5 separate regions of the Homo sapiens genome follow, and all the other regions are reported to be linked to region 3. Evidence: microRNA targets listed by miRTarBase, many of them from high-throughput screens and not tested one by one. Region 3 holds a microRNA gene; each other region holds the end of a gene's coding sequence. Distances are between the middles of the regions.
The links. Region 3 holds the annotated microRNA hsa-miR-1827 (UGAGGCAGUAGAUUGAAU, at 1,510-1,527, opposite strand). A microRNA usually pairs through its seed, bases 2 to 8, with sites in the 3' UTR of a target mRNA and lowers its output. Matches are read on the target gene's strand: a 7mer-m8 pairs with bases 2 to 8, a 7mer-A1 pairs with bases 2 to 7 and ends in A, and an 8mer does both.

Region 1 (3,000 bases), 33 Mb from region 3:
CTACTACCCTTTCTCCTATTATTCAAACTTGTCTACATCCAGTCTTTACTTCTTTGCCCTTTATTGATTCCTAAAGTCAGCCCAATCTAGCAACCATCTTCATTATGTACCACTATGTTATTTCCAACTACAATCACAAATGATCTTCACTTGGCTGTATATGTTTACCTTTTTAGACTTCATCTAATTGGATCCCTAAGTAACACTAAAAACATTTACCTTCACCTTCCTTTTTTTTTTTTTTTTTTTGAGATGAAGTCCTGCTCTGTCACCAGGCTGGAGTGCAGTGGTGAGATCTCATCTCACTGCAACCTCTGCCTCCCAGGTTCAAGTGATTCTTCTGCCTCAGCTCCTGAGTAGCTGGGACTACAGGCATGTGCCACCACACCCGGCTAATTTTTGTATTTTAGTAGAACCAGGGTTTCACCATGTTGGCCAGGATGGTCTCGATCTGACCTTGTGATCCGCCTGCCTCAGCCTCTCAAAGTGCCAGGATTACAGGCGTGAACCACCACACCTGGCCAACTTCACCTTCCTTTTTGAAACTTGTTTGTCTTGGTTCAGTGAAACTCCACTCTTCTTGTTTTCCTCTTATCTCTCTACTATAGTTCCTTTAAATGTATGTCTTCAGGGTAGGTGGCAGACCTTCCCTTTTCATTCTTACTCACCTTCCAAAGCCTGTTATTGTCTCTTTACTGATGTCACTACAATTTATATCTCTATCTAGACACCTCCTCAATTCTAGAATTGCGTACCAACCTCTTCATCTGGATGTCTCACCATCCTCTGAGGCTAACATGAATAACTACAACAGCAGCTACTGCCTTCTTTCTTCCACCGTATGCCACTCCTTCCATATTTTGTTAGAACTAATCTGGTCAGTATCTGCAAGATCAAGCAGCAAAATCTCATGCTTTACTTAGCATTTAAAATTGGTAACTTCCCCTCTGTCTGAAAACTTTCTGTAGTTCCAATGCTGAAATGTTGGGATACTCTTTTTGCTGTTCTAAACACTTGCTTTCAGTGATCTTGGTTCTATCTTCATCTGCTGCTTAAGCATAAAAGCTCGGTCAACATTCCTTTTCCATACTTTTTTTCTATGTTCCTCTTCAAATGTGTACATCCAACATAAAACATTTAACTGTATATACTTCTGTTTTTCTACAATATGGTGACTGCGTTGACTGTATTTATGTAGTGCTTTAAAAAAAATCAGTAAGAGCCAGGCATGGTAACTCATGCCTGGAATCCTAGCACTTTGGGAGGCAAAGGCAGGAGGACTGCTTGAGCCCAGGAGTTTCAGACCAGTCTGAGCAATGTAGGAAGAGCCTGTCTCTACAAAATATATATTTTTAAAATTAGCCAGGCATGGTGGCATGCATTTGTGATCCCAACTACTGAGGAGACTGTGGTGGATCACCTGAGCCCAGGAGGTCGAGGTTGCAATGAGCCATGACCACACCACTGCATTCTAGCCTGAGAGACAGAGACTCTGTCTGAAAAATTGAAAAAAAAAAAGAAAAAATCAATTAACATATTTTTCTTGGCCGGGCACAGTGGCTCACGCCTGTAATGCCAACACTTTGGGACGCCTAGGTGGGTGGATCACCTGAGGTCAGGAGTTTGAGACCAACCTGGCCAACATGGTGAAACCCCGTCTCTATTAAAAATACTAAAATTAGCCAGGCATGGCGGTGGTGCCTGTAATCCCAGCTACTCAGGAGGCTGAGGCAGGAGAATCACCTGAACCTGGGAGGTGGAGGTTGCAGTGAGCTGAGATTGTGCCACTGCACTCCAGCCTGGGCAACATACCGAGACTCCATCTCAAAAAACAAACAAAAAACCTTATTTTTCTCATGTAGGAACATATCCAGATACAAGTAGTGCAGGGCTGGTACAACTATTTAAAGATTTCTTTGAGGAACAGGGATCTCTTTCTTCTACTTCATCCCTTGGCTACAGCTGTCATTTTCATGATCACAAGATAGCTCTTTCAGCAGCTTCAGGAATGGCCAATTCATAGGGACAAAGATGAAGTGCAAAAAGTAGAGGACAAGATAGATAGTTCTGATCCCAGTGATATGTCTATTTTTGAATCAGCAAGAATGAATGATATGGCTACCCTTAGCTACAAGAAGTCAAAGAAGCGTTCTATAACCAGAGACCTTATTGTTCTTGGCTAAGATGGAATTCATTAGTAAGGAAAGATGAGCTCAAATGTTTGGTTGGCTGCTAGCAATACCAGTCTCACTGGGCCAGAAAACAACTTTTATAAAAACACCAACAAAGCAGTAAAATATAGTCCAGATTCTCTGAACACAATGGAATTAACCTAGAAACCAACAATAAAAAGATAACTGAAAATATACCTACCTCACATATTAAAAATACCTAATTCTAAACAGCCATGGATCAAAAAAAGTCATAATTAGTATTTACAGAAAATGTTATATTAAAAAAAGAGCCATTTGTAACCTTAAATCGTTCTTTTAGAGAACAAAGACTGAGACAAGGAGCTTGGAATCCACCTTAAGACAATGAAAACAGCAATTCCACATTCATAACACTTACAGGGTTTCTCTCTCAGTATGAATTCTCTTGTGTATAATAAGTGAAGAGCTCTGACTGAAGGCTTTTCCACATTGAATACATTCATAGGGTTTCTCTCCAGTGTGAATTCTCACATGCCTCCTAAGGGAAGAGGAAACACTGAAGGCTTTCCTACATTCCTTACATTCATAGGGTTTCTCTCCAGTGTGAGTTCTTATATGCATTCTAAGGGATGAGACCCCACTGAAAACTTTCCCACAGTCACTGCATTCATAAACATTCTCTCCGGTATGAATTTTCTTATGAACTTTAAGGTGAGAGCTCGTGTTGAAGGCTTTTCCACACTCACTGCATTCATAGAGTTTTTCTCCAGTGTGTATTCTCTTGTGCACTATAAGGTAAGAGCTTGTGCCAAAGGATTTTCCACACTGATTACATTCATAAGGTTTC
Region 2 (3,000 bases), 51 Mb from region 3:
GGATCTAGCCGGTCACTGCTGGTCCATTTTGCGACTGAAGTGTGTCCCATCCTGGAAACCAGGCAGACACCTGCCTAGGAAATACTTGTAGCTTTACAGTCCTTGGCTGCCTAAACATCCTTCTACCTCCAAGCTTAAACTTGGAACCAAACCACCCTCCTCTGATACTTGAATTGGAATTTTTACTCTCTCAAAGCCTACCCTGGCAGGCCATGCCCTCCGCTGTCATCCAGGAAGTATGGGTTCCAATTTCTGCCCAAGACCAGCCAAGCCCTTTGGGCATACAACCAGAGCCTCCCTTCTCTGTAGTCCTCCCCAGATCTCCCCGACTTCCATCTCTCCTCACATTCAGCATTAAGCAGGACTGGGAGGTGAGGATACCAGGGGCCCATTTCTCTACTAACTTTGCAGTCTCCTTTGGAACTTCCCCAGAACCAGGAACAGAGCTTGGTACTTATTGTCTCATTTAGGACTTCCAACTTTTTTCCCCTTCTCTTCTTTGCCAGGCATCTAATAGCTGCTGTTTTTCAAATGAATGACTTCTCAGTTGGAAGCTGCTGAAGGGCAGTGGACACTCAAAAGTCTTTGTAAGAGGTGAGGATCACTTCCCTTAACCGTCCATCTAGGCACCTCTCCAGCTTTCTCCCTCTCTGGACTCCCGGGGCTCCATTTTCAGCCACTCAGATCTCATCTCAGAGGCACCACGTCCAATTTCTTTTGTTTAGAAGTCATTTCTTCTAAGAAGCCTTCCTTGATGTCCCAACACTGCCCACCTGTGTTCCCTCGAGAACCATTACTTAACTGCAGTGTTAGAACAGTATTAGAATTATCTGGCACCTTACTAGACAAAGCAATCTTAAGCACACACATATTTATCATGTATCTCCAAGGTTAAGTGCCTACTCTACAGAAGGGTGCTTTGCAAGCATTTGTGGAATCTACACTTTGTGTTTCATATTCACCCTCCCCTCACCACACTCTATGGCTAGTACTCATAGCAACTTTGTGTACATCAGAAAAAACCAGGCCAGGCACAGTGGCTCACTCCTGTAATCCCAACACTTTGGGGGCGAGGCAAGGACTGCTTGAGGCCATGAGTTGAAGACCAACTTGGTCAACATAGTGACACCCCGTTTCAAAAAAAAAAAATTAATTAGTGGGAGGTAGTGGTACATGCCTGTAGTCTTAGGTACTCAGGAGGCTGAGGAAGGAGGATCACTTGGGTGCAAGAGTTCAAGGCTGTAGAGTGAGCTAAGATCATGCCACTGCACTCTAACCTGGGTGACAGAGTGAGGACCCCCCCCCCCAAAAAAAAGATGGCTGGGTGTTGTGGCTAACCCCTGTAATTCCATCATTTGGGGAGTCCAAGGTAGGTGGATCACTTGAGCTCAGGAGTTCAAGACCAGCCCAGGCAACATGGCAAAACCCCATCTCTACTAAAAATACAAAAATTAGCCAGGCATGGTAGCATGTGTCTGTTGTCCTAGCTATTCTGGAGCCTGAGCTGGAAGAATGGCTTGAGCCCAGAATGCGGAGGTTGCAGTGAGCTGAGATTGCACCACTGCACTCCAGCCAGGGTGATAGAGCCAGACCTTGTCTCACAAAAAAAAAAAAAAAAAAAAGAAGAAGAAAAAAGAAAAAAAAAGCACCCCTTCCTCAAGATGACTGACATTTATTAGAAAACTATCATAGTAACTATCCACACAATGACTATGAGGTGAATGGTGTCCCTGGAAGCTGTGCAATACACAATCTGTATAAGCCTAAGTTTTGCGCTCTTACTCCCAACATAGCACATGGGCTTTTCAAGAAACTGATGGCCTCTAGTAAAAAGCTAGATTCTTCTCTCAGGTAGGAAATGAAAATCCTTGTCAGCCAGCCACTTATTTTACTCTATATCCAATAGTTAAGCCAGGGAGGATAGGGCTGAAGGTATGAGTGTATCGGGGAGGTTAGCCTACTCCTATGCCCATGTCCTACCCCCAATACTCAAGGTACAGAAACAAGGCCATGAATATAAGGAGGAGTCAGGGGACAAGCCAGCTTTAAGCAAGACTGAGGATGGAGGAGTTTCCCACTGCCCAACTGCATGGCCTAACACCAGATCCAAGTCCCCAAAGGATGGTAATAATATAGATGAAGGGGAAGGAAAAGGATGGTGGGCAGGACCCCTCTGCTTCTCTTACTGGGCAGACGCCGGGCTGGTGGGAGCAAGGCTGTTCAAATATACACAGAGACAGGTGCTTTAAAAAAACAAAGCAAACCCTGGGATCAACTTTATTGCTGATGGCTGAAGCCTCCTCCTCCCTATCCCCTTGGTCTTTCAGGTGGTCCAAAGCCCCTCCAGGATAGCACAGTGCTTAGGCTCTGCTGGGCCAGAGGCAAGGGAGACAATCTATCTCCCGAGCCTGCCCTGGCCCAGTCCTTTCCCTGCCCCTACCCCACCCTATTGCACATCAAATCATGTAAACATGGCTATGGGGATGGCCCAGAACAGCAGTGAGGCAGATTGATGTGTAAACAGATTTGGGATCAGGGGCTAGACCCAGTCACCCAGCCCTACCCCATGCTGAGGCCACAGTTAAGTATGGAAAAGCAGGAGGTCCTGGTCCCAAACTCTGGCTCAGATTATGCAATAGTGCAGATGGCTCTGCTCCCCTCTGCCACCCACCCTCTCAGATTCCAGGTCCTGAGGTCCAAGTAGCCTTGGGCTTCCCTCCAGGCCTAGGCAGCAGATGGCAGTGTCCAGTTTTTTCCTTCCCACCCCCAGCTGGAGGTCACTGGTGCTGGGTCTTCCTAGATGCCTGGGGGAAACCGGAGACGGGCAGCGGCAGTCTGTCCAGCCCTGGAGAAGAGGAGATGGGCAGTCAAAAGCAAGTCAAAGGTCCAGTCCGTTAGGGACCAGGCAGCCAAGCCACAGAATGTGTGGATGAGGTACGTTACCCACAAAGCAGGAAGCACACCCTCTCCCCTGCTGGGGTGATCCATGTTCCAGAGTGT
Region 3 (4,375 bases):
AGCACTCGGTTGTGTGAGACCATCTGAGGGGCAAGGAGCTGAGAGGATCCCTAGGGAGACTGTGGCTTTCATGATTGTCCAGTAGGCAGTAGCTCACCAGCCAGCACAGGGGGCCCTCAGTCGGCTAGAGATTCAGGATGGTTTTGCTCCCTGATCTAGTCTTTGAGCATCTGCTGTTGTGTCCTACTAGAGCATCACCTCCTAGGAGGAGATTTTGTCAGTATAGTTCACTACTGTGCCTTTCATGCTTAGAGGATGCCAGATGCTTATTGCCTAACCCAAGCTTTAAGCCCTCATATCCTCTTGGAGTGTGTGTGTGTGTGTGTGTGTGTGTGTGTGTGTGTGTGTGTGTAAACCTCTCCCTCTCTGGATCAGTGAGAGTGTTGTTAAGGTTACAAATAAGAAATGCCTAGCACACTGCCTGACTGATTGTAAGTGCTCTGTAAATGGTGGCTACACACCCCAGGCCTGCTGGCATTGCTGCCACTGTTGCCCCTCTGACTCTTTTGAGCCAGTAGGTGAAGTGTGTCTCCACTCCCTTGGGTGGAGTGGACAGGGTGCCTTTCTCAAGGGCAGTTGTGAGGGCTGAGCTGGCCGGGAAGGTGTGCTCTTCCTTCCAGGCCTCCCTCCCACAGGTCTTCTGCGGGCCCTGCAGTTGGCCCTGCTCTGACTCTTAGTTTTTGCTTCATTCTTGACCCACTCAGGCCTGGTAGAAAGAGTTATCTGTGAGCACGGCGGGGGTTCCCAAGAATCTATTATGGTTTTAGTGTCTAGGACTCTAAAGTCGTGACAGTGACTCGTCTCTTCAGCCCCTGTTTGCAGCAGAGGGCGCAAACCAGCTCAAAGCAGGCACACAGATGTTTGGTGAATTGGGAGAAGTTGTTCCTGTCCAGGAGCCATAACGTGGTATTTGTAATTTTCCTCGTTGGAAGGCATGGCTCTGTCTGCCAAGAAAGACAAGGCATGTAGTCACCATGCTGCTGCCTCACAGTGACATTTTTAAAGCCAGACCTTCTAGAGAAGGAAGCAGGAAGGAAGGCGACTTGCTTTTGGGCCCGTGGAGTTTCAGCAGTTGCGGGAAGTTGGCTGGGCTGTGTGTGTGTGTTGCTGCATTGGTGCCTGGTCTTCTTTGATAGCTCCCAGGAGCATGAGGTTGTGCTTAGCAGTTGTGTCCCATCAGTCCTCTTGGTCTCGATCAGTTCACACGCTCCCAGGGCCCCACGTATCAGAAGGGCCGCCGTTGCATAACACTGTCCATGGAAATCACTGCAGTCATGAGAGGAGCAGTGGCTTTGGCCTGTAGACTCAGAGACCTTTCACCATGACTCAGCATGGGAAGCGGAGGCTCAGAGAACTTCAGCCTGTCTTGTCCAGGGCCACCAAGGGAGCAACTGAGCCATGTCTTCTGTTATATTTAGAGTTGGGGGCTGAGGAGGGGCGCCTATCTGCATTCTCTGCCGGTCCTGGGTCCACCTGTTGCAGGGACCCAATTCTAAGGGACCTGAATCAATTCAATCTACTGCCTCAGCCTTTCAGAGGCTTCTCATTGCTTTAGGCTGAAGGCTGTGCTGCTGAACATGGCCTTCAGGGTCCCATGGGGTCTGACTCCTGTCATTTCCTCTGTTGCAGGCCCACTTGACTTCTTGCAGTTCTTCAGATGTATTGTCTTCCCGACAGGCCCTGCCTCAGGCTGTCCCTTTGCAGGGCGGGCTGTCTCTTCTCTGGTTACTTCTGTTCGTTCTTCAGAGAAGCCTTCCCTGTTCCTCCCATTCCTCACTGCCGTGCTTCTCCTTCACAGCCCTTACCACTGCCTGTAGTTACTGTATTTCTTTGTGTACTCATCTGTGGTCTAGCTCCCTTGCAAGGCTGGGAGCTCCATGGGGCAGGGACCCTGTCTGTCTTGTCTCTGGTTTACCCCAGTGCCTCACACGGCCTGGTACATAGTGGGTGTCCAGCATCGACTTGAGGAAGAGTGATGAGGGAAGGCTCCAGACCCTTTCAGGGGCAGAGTTGCTCTACTGCTCCTGCTCCTGCTGCTTGGGGCTCATCATCCTCTGCCCTGCACACCCGTGGCAGGGGGGGTCTGCCCACACCCACCTGCCTTTGTGCCACACTCCCTTCCCTAGCAGGACGATGGTTCCTCTCAGCACTGTCCTTTTTGTTTGGCCTCCTGGTGGGAGGTGAAGCCAGCTGGACTTCCTGGGTCGAGTGGGGACTTGGAGAACTTTTCTGTCTAGCTAGAGGATTGTAAACACACCAGTCAGCGCTGTGTCTAGCTAAAGGATTGTAAATGCACCAATCAGCACTCTGTAAAAACGCACCAATCAGTGCTCTGTGTCCAGCTAAAGGATTGTAAACACACCAATCAGTACTCTGTAAAATGGATCAATCAGCACTCTGTAAAATGGACCAATCAGCGCTCTGTAAAATGGACCAATGAGCAGGATGTGGGCAGGGACAAATGAGGGAATAAAAGCTGGCCACCCCACCCAGCAGCGGCAACCTGCTCGGGTCCCCTTCCATGCTGTGGAACCTTTGTTCTTTCGCTCTTCATCATAAATCTTACTGCTGCTCACTCTTTGGGTCCGTGCCACCTTTAAGAGCTGCAACACTCACCGCAAAGGTCTGCAGCTTCATTCTTGAAGTTGGCGAGACTAAGAACCCACCAGAAGGAACCAATTCTGGACACTGGGAAGGATGTTACCTTCGGACACAGTGTTGTTCACTTTTTTGACTGGGAACCGACAGCAGATAATACACCTTTGTATGTAAATGTATACTGTCAGTATGTACATAAAACTGAAAGAAAAATGTCACTGCTACATATAGTAAAGCTAAGTACTATTTTCTCTTTTAATACTAAAAAAAATGCTTGTCCCCTCAAAATTGACTTCTTATCTTCTTAATTTGATATCCTGGCCCACAGTGGGTCACCACTCAAGTTTAGAGAAGCCCATTCTGCAGGACTGCCTGGCTGTGCAGCTGGTGCTCCCTCCCTCCCTGCTGCATTTTCCTCTCCCCCTCACTGTGGGATGGGGCTGAGGTTGTTCCCTTGGGTAAGAGGCTGTCCCTCCCTGCCTTCAGCAGTTTGAAGGGTTCTCAGGAAGACAGGCAGGCAAGGCCTGTGAGTCCTCTGCCACAGGTGCCGTAGGGTGCAGTTCAAGGCTGAACCCAGCATGTCACAGCCTCCCTGGGTGCACCAGGAAGAAATGGCTTATTCTTTGCGGTGTGGGTTTTGGGAGAGGCTAGTGATGGTTTTGCTCTGAAGACGAGTTTTGACTTAAAGGGCTTGAGCGATGGAGAGGGACTGGCCAAAGGGAAATGTAAGTTCAAGGACACCCATGCAGAGGCAAGGAAGTCAGAACAGGGTGTGTCTCACAAGTGGCATGGGTTCTCATGCCAGGTGCATAGGGTGCTTAAGGGGGTGAGGATAGAAGAGGAGCTGAGGAGGCCAGGGAGCCCAGGGTGAAGGGGTGGGGGTGTCTGCCCTTTGGGCAGTAGGGAACCAGTGGAGCTGTACCTGTCTGAAAGTTCTACAACAAGAGTATTGTTTCTTAGATGTTTGGTTTATTTGAGGCTGTGCACGTTTTATTAGGTGTTTGCTCTAATGTGTTAGAATTGGAAGGATGATGTACTCATCTGTCCAGGTAAATGTCTAGAGTATTTTGGAAAGGGTCTTTCTGATGACACCCTCCCAGATCCTCAGGATCAAAAGACATCATATCAGAAGTAAATATATTCTAACTTTGGACATTAATGCTCCAAACTTGAATGCCAGCTGAAGCCTGGACCACAGCAGAAAGCAGCCTCTCAAAGTCCTTGGTTTGAAGGGCAATAGCTTTTTAGAGAGTGATTGTATTAATTTGCTCTGGCTGCTGTAACAAGTTACCATAAACTTGATGTTTTAAAACAACACATATTAATTCTCTGATAGTTTGGGAGGCCAGAAGTTCAAAATCAGCTTCACTAGGCCTAAGTTCAGGTGTCGACAGGACTGGTTTCTTTGGAGGCTCCAGGGCAAAGTCGGTTCCGGGCCTCTTCCAGCTTCTGGTGGCTGCTGGCATTGCTTGGTCTATGGCTGGCTTGCTGTAATCTCTGCTTCCCTGGCCACATTGCCATCTCCTCTTCTGCAGTTGAATCTAGGCCCACTCCTGAGATAACAGCGTTAATCCATTCGTGAGGACTGAGCCTTCATGGCCTAATCACCTCTTAATGGTTCCACCTCTTAATACTATCACAGTGACAATTACATTTCAACATGAGTTTTGGAGGGGACGTTCAAACCATAGCAAATGACCTCTGGCTTGCAGGCCTGCCACCTGATAGATTCCCCATTTGGCCTGCCTTCTTAGTTGTGTGTTTGTACTTCATTGTA
Region 4 (3,000 bases), not on the chromosome of region 3:
CCTTCATGCGCCGCACGGCGCTGACTTCTCACCTGCGCGTTCACACTGGCGAGAAGCCCTACCGCTGCCCGCAGTGTGGCCGCTGCTTCGGCCTGAAGACCGGCATGGCCAAGCACCAATGGGTCCATCGGCCCGGGGGCGAGGGGCGTAGGGGCCGGCGCCCTGGGGGGCTGTCTGTGACCCTGACTCCTGTCCGCGGGGACCTGGACCCGCCTGTGGGCTTCCAGCTGTATCCAGAGATATTCCAGGAATGTGGGTGACGGCCTAAAAAGTGACCATCTAGACATTGTGGGCGGCCCGAGATGGGCTCAGGGGCCCGAACCTCTGCAGCGGCCTGCAGGGAGGTCCCAGAATCCACCGCAAGAGCTGGCCTGGGGTGCGGACAGTCTGATCTTGGGCTCTCAGCAGCCTCTTCTGCCAGCACCTTGCTCCCCGCTGCCCTGGGCTCTCCAAGGCCCCCTTTGCTGAGGCAGGGCTGAGGTGAGAACCCCCCAGACCTCCATACAGGGAAGCAAAAGCTGTTTCTCCTCCCAGAGATGCTAAGAGGATTGAGGTAGAGAAGAACCTTGTTTTCTCTGTTGTCTTTTTCTTTTTACTTTTTTAATTTTTTGAGACGGAGTTTTGCTCTTGTTGCCCAGGCTGGAGTGCAATGGTGCGATCTCGACTCACTGCAACTTCCACCTCCTGGAGTCAAGCGATTCTCCTGCCTCAGCCACCCAAGTAGCTGGAATTACAGGCACCTGCCACTATGCCCGGCTAACTTTTTGTATTTTTAGTAGAGATGGGGTTTCACCATGTTGGCTAGGCTGGTCTCGAACTCCTGCCCTCAGGTGATCCACCCACCTCTGCCTCCCAAAGTGCTGGGATTACAGGCGTGAGCCACCTCACCTGGCCTTTTCTTTTTTATTCTTTGACCTTCCCACAAGACAATACCCATTGTCTGTTTTTTTTGTTTATTTATTTACTTATTAAGACAGCATCTTGCTCCTCACCCAGGCTGGAATGCAGTGGTGTGAACTGGGCTCACTGCAGCCTAGACCTGCTGGGCTCAAGGAATCCTCCTGCCCCAGCCTCTCAGATGGCTGTGACTACAGGTGGGCAACACTATGCCTGGCTAATTTTTAAATTTTTTTGCAGAGATGGGGTTCCCACTATGTTGATCAGGCTGGTCTCAAACTCCTCGGTTCAAGCAATTCGCCCACCTTGGCCTCCCAAAGTGCTGGGATTACAGGGGAGCCACTGCACTGGCCTTCATTGTCTTTTTGCTGCACAACCTAAAAAACCAGTGACCCTGTATTGGATCTCGCCTGCAGTTGCTGTATTGATTTGGGCCCAGGCAGTGTTTTTAAGTGATAAGAATTAGTGATGAAGATCTAAAGGGATATTTTGCACCAAAATCCAGGTTTCTGGCATCTCTTGAAAAATCCAAAGATTTCGCAAGTTCACCTAGGCTCTCAGAAAGTCGCAGTTGTTGGGAGTTGGGCCGGAGCCAGAACTCCCAACTTACTGTGGTCCGGCCACTCATCCCATCAGCTCCTGACCAAGCATGAGTAGCCATTCATCATGGCTTGCTTTTAGTGTTTTTGGTGTTTATCTTAAAGTACAGCAAAGAAGAAAGGGAAGTATTTCTTGAACCCATGTCTGTGTCAAAACAGTCCTTGCATCTTTCCTGTCTTTAGGTACGCACCATCTTTGCTGTCTTTAAGTATGTGCCATCATGGGCAGAGGGGGCTAGGCCAGGAACACCTGGTGTTAGATTTGTAGCCAGTGGCAACCGTACCCATCTGTATCCCCAAGTTCTACACGGAATCCCTCCAGCACTTCACGACTCCATTATCCAGCTACCACTAATTCCTTTGTGGGCAGAGTCCAGCCACGGGCAGCCCCTGCCCTGCCTCTGGTCAGGACAACACCTGCCCAAGGAGAGCAAGGGCCTGTGACCTCTGCTGGCCTGTGCGCCCTCACCTGTCACCCAGCTCAGCCCTGTGTCTGGCCTACCCAGGGAGGAAGGAACCAGATTTATCAGCCTGAAAGGAGGTAGAAGTTTTGGAGAAAAGACACTGTTCGGGTGTCAAGTAATGAACTGACTTTATTCGAACCTCATCTCCAATCCAATCCCACCGTGGTCTCTCTCTCCCTCAGCTTTTCTGGGGCGGGTTGACTCGTGTGTCACTTTATCACAGGGGCACATGGGGTGAGAAGAGGAACCTTGGCAGTAGGAGATACCTTTGTACCAGGTTTTAATTTCCAGTGTACATCTCAGTCCCCTCCCCTAACCCTCAACACAGCCTGGGGAAAGCCCAGCTTGCAACACCAGTTCTCAGCCCAGACTGACAGCCAGATAGATCTTGGCCCTGAGTTTGCCAATTAAAGATGCCGTGATTATTACCTAGAGGTCTCTGAGAGCTTTGAAGTTTGTAAAGTTTACTTATGGCCCAGAAACCAGGCTCCAACTCCTCTGCTTCCTGCCCTCATGACCCAACCTTCCAGCATTTCGTCAATTTTTTTTAGTGTCGTGAAACCCTTAAGCCTTAGCCCCACCCCATTCTCAGCTCCTCAGTTGGTGGCACAGATATTTCCACCTAGAGGTAGGGCCAGGCTAAGTATCTTTTAAAAATGTAGCTATTCTCGGCCGGGCGTGGTGGCTCACACCTGTAATCCCAGCATTTTGGGAGGCTGAGGCGGGCGGATCGCAAGGTCAGGAGACCGAGACCATCCTGGCTAACATGGTGAAACCCCGTCTCTACTAAGGATACATTTTAAAAAAATTAGCCTGACATGGTGGCACGTGCCTATAGTCCCAGCTACTCAGGAGGGTGAGGCAGGAGAATCGCTTGAACTCAGGAGGCAGAGGTTGCACTGAGCAGAGATAGCACCACTGCACTCCAGCCTGGGTGACAGAGCGAGACTCTGTCTCAAAAAAAAAAAAAAAAAAAACTAGCTACTCCCTGGGCCCAGTTCCTCATCTATTGAATCAGAATCTCCAGGGATAGAATTTTA
Region 5 (3,000 bases), not on the chromosome of region 3:
AGCTTATTCGAATAGCTCCTGGAGTAGTAACAATGAGAGACGGCAGGCAGCTTGATCCTGATTTGGTTGAGGCCCAGCGAAAAAAATTGCAGGAAATGGTTTCTTCTATTCAGGCTTCAATGGACAGGCACCTTCGGGATCAAAGTACAGAGCAGTCACCATCTGATCTTCCTCAAAGGAAAACAGAAGTTGTGAGTTCTTCTGCAAAGTCTGGGAGTCTTCAGACTGGTTTGCCTGAATCTTTTCCTTTAACTGGTGGTACTGAAAATTTGAATACAGAAACAACTGATGGCTGTGTAGCAGATGCACTGGGAGCAGCCTTTGCCACAAGGTCAAAAGCACAAAGGGGAAATTCCGTGGAGGAGCTTGAAGAGATGGATAGTCAAGATGCTGAGATGACTAACACAACTGAGCCAATGGATCACTCTTGATTTAATTAGAGGCTAATAAAGGCAGAATGTTTATTGTGAATATGTAATATTTGTTGGCTGGGCCACGTAACTTGATTAGTCATTAAAAATCTTGTACGTATATAATTCAAAGATTATATCTTGTTATTCAGTGCATGATAGCAAGTGTGTGATTGGCCATAGCTTTTAATATACTGCTGCCCAGGCTGGCTCTGAATTTCTATAAATTAGCTGTTAGATCTGCTGAGATGACTTTCTTCCATATATGTGGTTCATTGGAAGTTCTTTGTAATTTTAATTCCATGAAAGTCTTAATGTTTCCAACATGAAAATTCTCTTACTTAAATACGTTTGATTTCTGAAAAGCCTACAAATGGAGGGGAAATGAGATTGTGCTAATGTTGATGTCATCAAGGTAACCATCTCATATACTAGTGTCAAAAGGTTTATGTAAACTTGAATTTTATCTGAACTAAATTGTATCTTAAAATTCATACAATTATTTATTAGACAGTGGAATGCAAATGTTTCTATGAACGTAAACACATTCATAGAGATTTCTTGGCGAAAATATCTTGAGAATAGAATGTAACGATATAACATTTTGCTGATTTGTGCAAGATTGGGGAAAAATTTCTTCTAGATTGATGAGGTCAATGTGATTCAGTTGTGTTGCTGTCTGAGCCACAGCCAATTGTGTGTGCTCTATTAATATGTTACCATTATTTTTGATTCCTGGCTTGGTCAAGAACAACCTGATTTTTTTTTTTTTAATCTTGCAGAAAAGTTGATTGCAAAGTGTGGTAGAAAAAGAAATAATGGTAGCAGTAGAGAATTTATAAATAAGAGTTTATCTTTATGAATGAGTTAATTGTTCTACAATTTTGATCAGTGGTATTTAAGCCTGTATATGCTAAGTGTATTTATGCCCCTTTGAGCCAAAATTTTTTTTTTTTTTTCAGAATCCATAAGAGTTTATTTGTTGGCTTCACTTGGGTTTAGATGCAAATTTTACTGCATCACACCCTGATCAGCTGGGTATTTGCTTAGTGTATTCATCAAATCTTCAGTGCCAGTTTCCTTGAGAAGCAGCTTTCATGCTTATTCCTTAAAAACAACAGAAGAGTGTTTATCCTGAGATTGGTATTGCACTATTTTATTTTATTCTGCAAATCTGTATCCTGAAGTGTACATTTCAACCCATATTCTTCTCTGTTCACTGAAATTAAGTTGAATTTGAATGGCTGAAAGACAAAATATATGTTAATACAATCTCTTACCTAGAGCATTCAAAGCCTGGCTGTCTCTGTTTGCACATGTAACAGATGCAGAACTGTGTTTGTAATTCTAAGAAAATGTATGTCAGAAAGTATTTTATCAGATGTTTAAAAATCTCTGCCTGTTGATTCATAAGGGATATAGACAGTACTTTAACTTGTGTTTCCAGATAAGGCAGATTTTGGTCATCTTTCTGTGAAAGTATCTCTAACTGAATCCACTTCTTAAACAAACTACTCTATTTTAAATAAGGAAAGAATGGAGAATCTAGACATTTTACAGGTGTATCTGAGCAAAATATATATTTGGGTTAGTTTTTATCACATTATCACGTTTGTCTTTATATTTTATCTTCATCCTAAATTTTCTCCCTATCAAAACAGCAGGAAATTTTTAAACTTTTATATTGTACACTATTTTTGCATAAAATAAGAGCTGTAGCTACCAAATACTATTTACTACTTAGTAAAGGTGGCTTCTGTGTATTAAACTACGAATTACAAATATCACTTCACTAACCACTATAATTATTTTTGGCTTTTTCAGCCACTGGAACTTTTTTTGGGGGGATTTAAATACAGGAAAACTGTTTAAGCAAAAAATGCACTGCTTTCATGTAAAATGATATAATCTTCTTTAACAAATATTTTCTTCATTGATAACTGACAGATATCTCATAGCATTAACATAAAATACCAGAAACAAACTTTATCTCCCTATTCTTACATTTAGTGCAAATTGGAATGCGTATGTGAATGTTAGAAGATGGACTTAATCTCTGACAACTTTATTAATTTCTCTAGCTACAGCAATGCTATTTAAAAGCCAGTTAGGTATGAATAGTACAGTAATAGTTTGGGTTCTCCCTTGATAAATGAATAAAAGGCTCAATTCTGATAAGTGATCAAATTTCTTGAAATTCTTTCAAATCAGCTGAAAATTTGGTTGGGGTGAATTGATGGTTTTTGAGAAGTAGGCCAGGTATCCTCACAAAGAAGTTTTAGAATAGGGTTTCTTTTAAGTTTTTAAATATCATCCTTTGTCTTTCCATATGGTTTTCATAACCAAATACATGACTATAGCATGGTTATTTTTCTAGTACTGCCATTTGTGATATAGCCACATCTTGGCGTGCAAGCTAGACATCTCAGGTAAATTTGTTTTTTTTTTTTTTTTTAGCCCTAGAGGTAACATTATAACTAAAATGCATTCCTGCAATTCTGTTTGCAGTGCTTCACTAAACATTGAAATAAAGTTGTAAATTTTTTCTTCAGTAATCCATTTTATAGTTAATCATACCAAATTTAAGTTG

Region 1: the mRNA of ZNF891 is a reported target of hsa-miR-1827. Seed matches in the 3' UTR shown: 8mer at 1,727-1,734.
Region 2: miRTarBase lists LMBR1L as a target of hsa-miR-1827. Seed matches in the 3' UTR shown: 8mer at 2,501-2,508.
Region 4: the mRNA of ZNF747 is a reported target of hsa-miR-1827. Seed matches in the 3' UTR shown: 8mer at 704-711, 7mer-m8 at 846-852 and 7mer-m8 at 1,892-1,898.
Region 5: the mRNA of VCPIP1 is a reported target of hsa-miR-1827. The part of its 3' UTR that is shown has no 7-base or 8-base seed match.

The regions. Positions count from the first base shown.
Region 1 is chr12:133,117,717-133,120,716 of GRCh38, forward strand. It overlaps ZNF891 (zinc finger protein 891), which reads right to left. Exons shown (of 2, transcript NM_001277291.2): 2 at 1-3,000. The coding sequence ends at 2,568. Among named protein-coding and RNA genes, the nearest start is that of ZNF891, 11 kb to the right of the region's middle.
Region 2 is chr12:49,094,895-49,097,894 of GRCh38, forward strand. LMBR1L (limb development membrane protein 1 like) reads right to left here. Exons shown (of 17, transcript NM_018113.4): 17 at 2,245-2,845. The coding sequence ends at 2,778. It overlaps DHH-AS1 (DHH antisense RNA 1), which reads left to right. Exons shown (of 4, transcript XR_007063295.1): 4 at 507-850. Among named protein-coding and RNA genes, the nearest start is that of DHH, 1.6 kb to the left of the region's middle.
Region 3 is chr12:100,187,084-100,191,458 of GRCh38, reverse strand. MIR1827 (microRNA 1827) reads right to left here and starts at 1,575; the gene lies at 1,510-1,575.
Region 4 is chr16:30,529,759-30,532,758 of GRCh38, reverse strand. ZNF747 (zinc finger protein 747) reads left to right here. Exons shown (of 3, transcript NM_001305018.2): 3 at 1-2,392. The coding sequence ends at 260. It also overlaps a transcript of ZNF768 not described here. Among named protein-coding and RNA genes, the nearest start is that of ZNF747, 3.6 kb to the left of the region's middle.
Region 5 is chr8:66,631,932-66,634,931 of GRCh38, reverse strand. It overlaps VCPIP1 (valosin containing protein interacting protein 1), which reads left to right. Exons shown (of 3, transcript NM_025054.5): 3 at 1-3,000. The coding sequence ends at 431. Among named protein-coding and RNA genes, the nearest start is that of MYBL1, 20 kb to the right of the region's middle.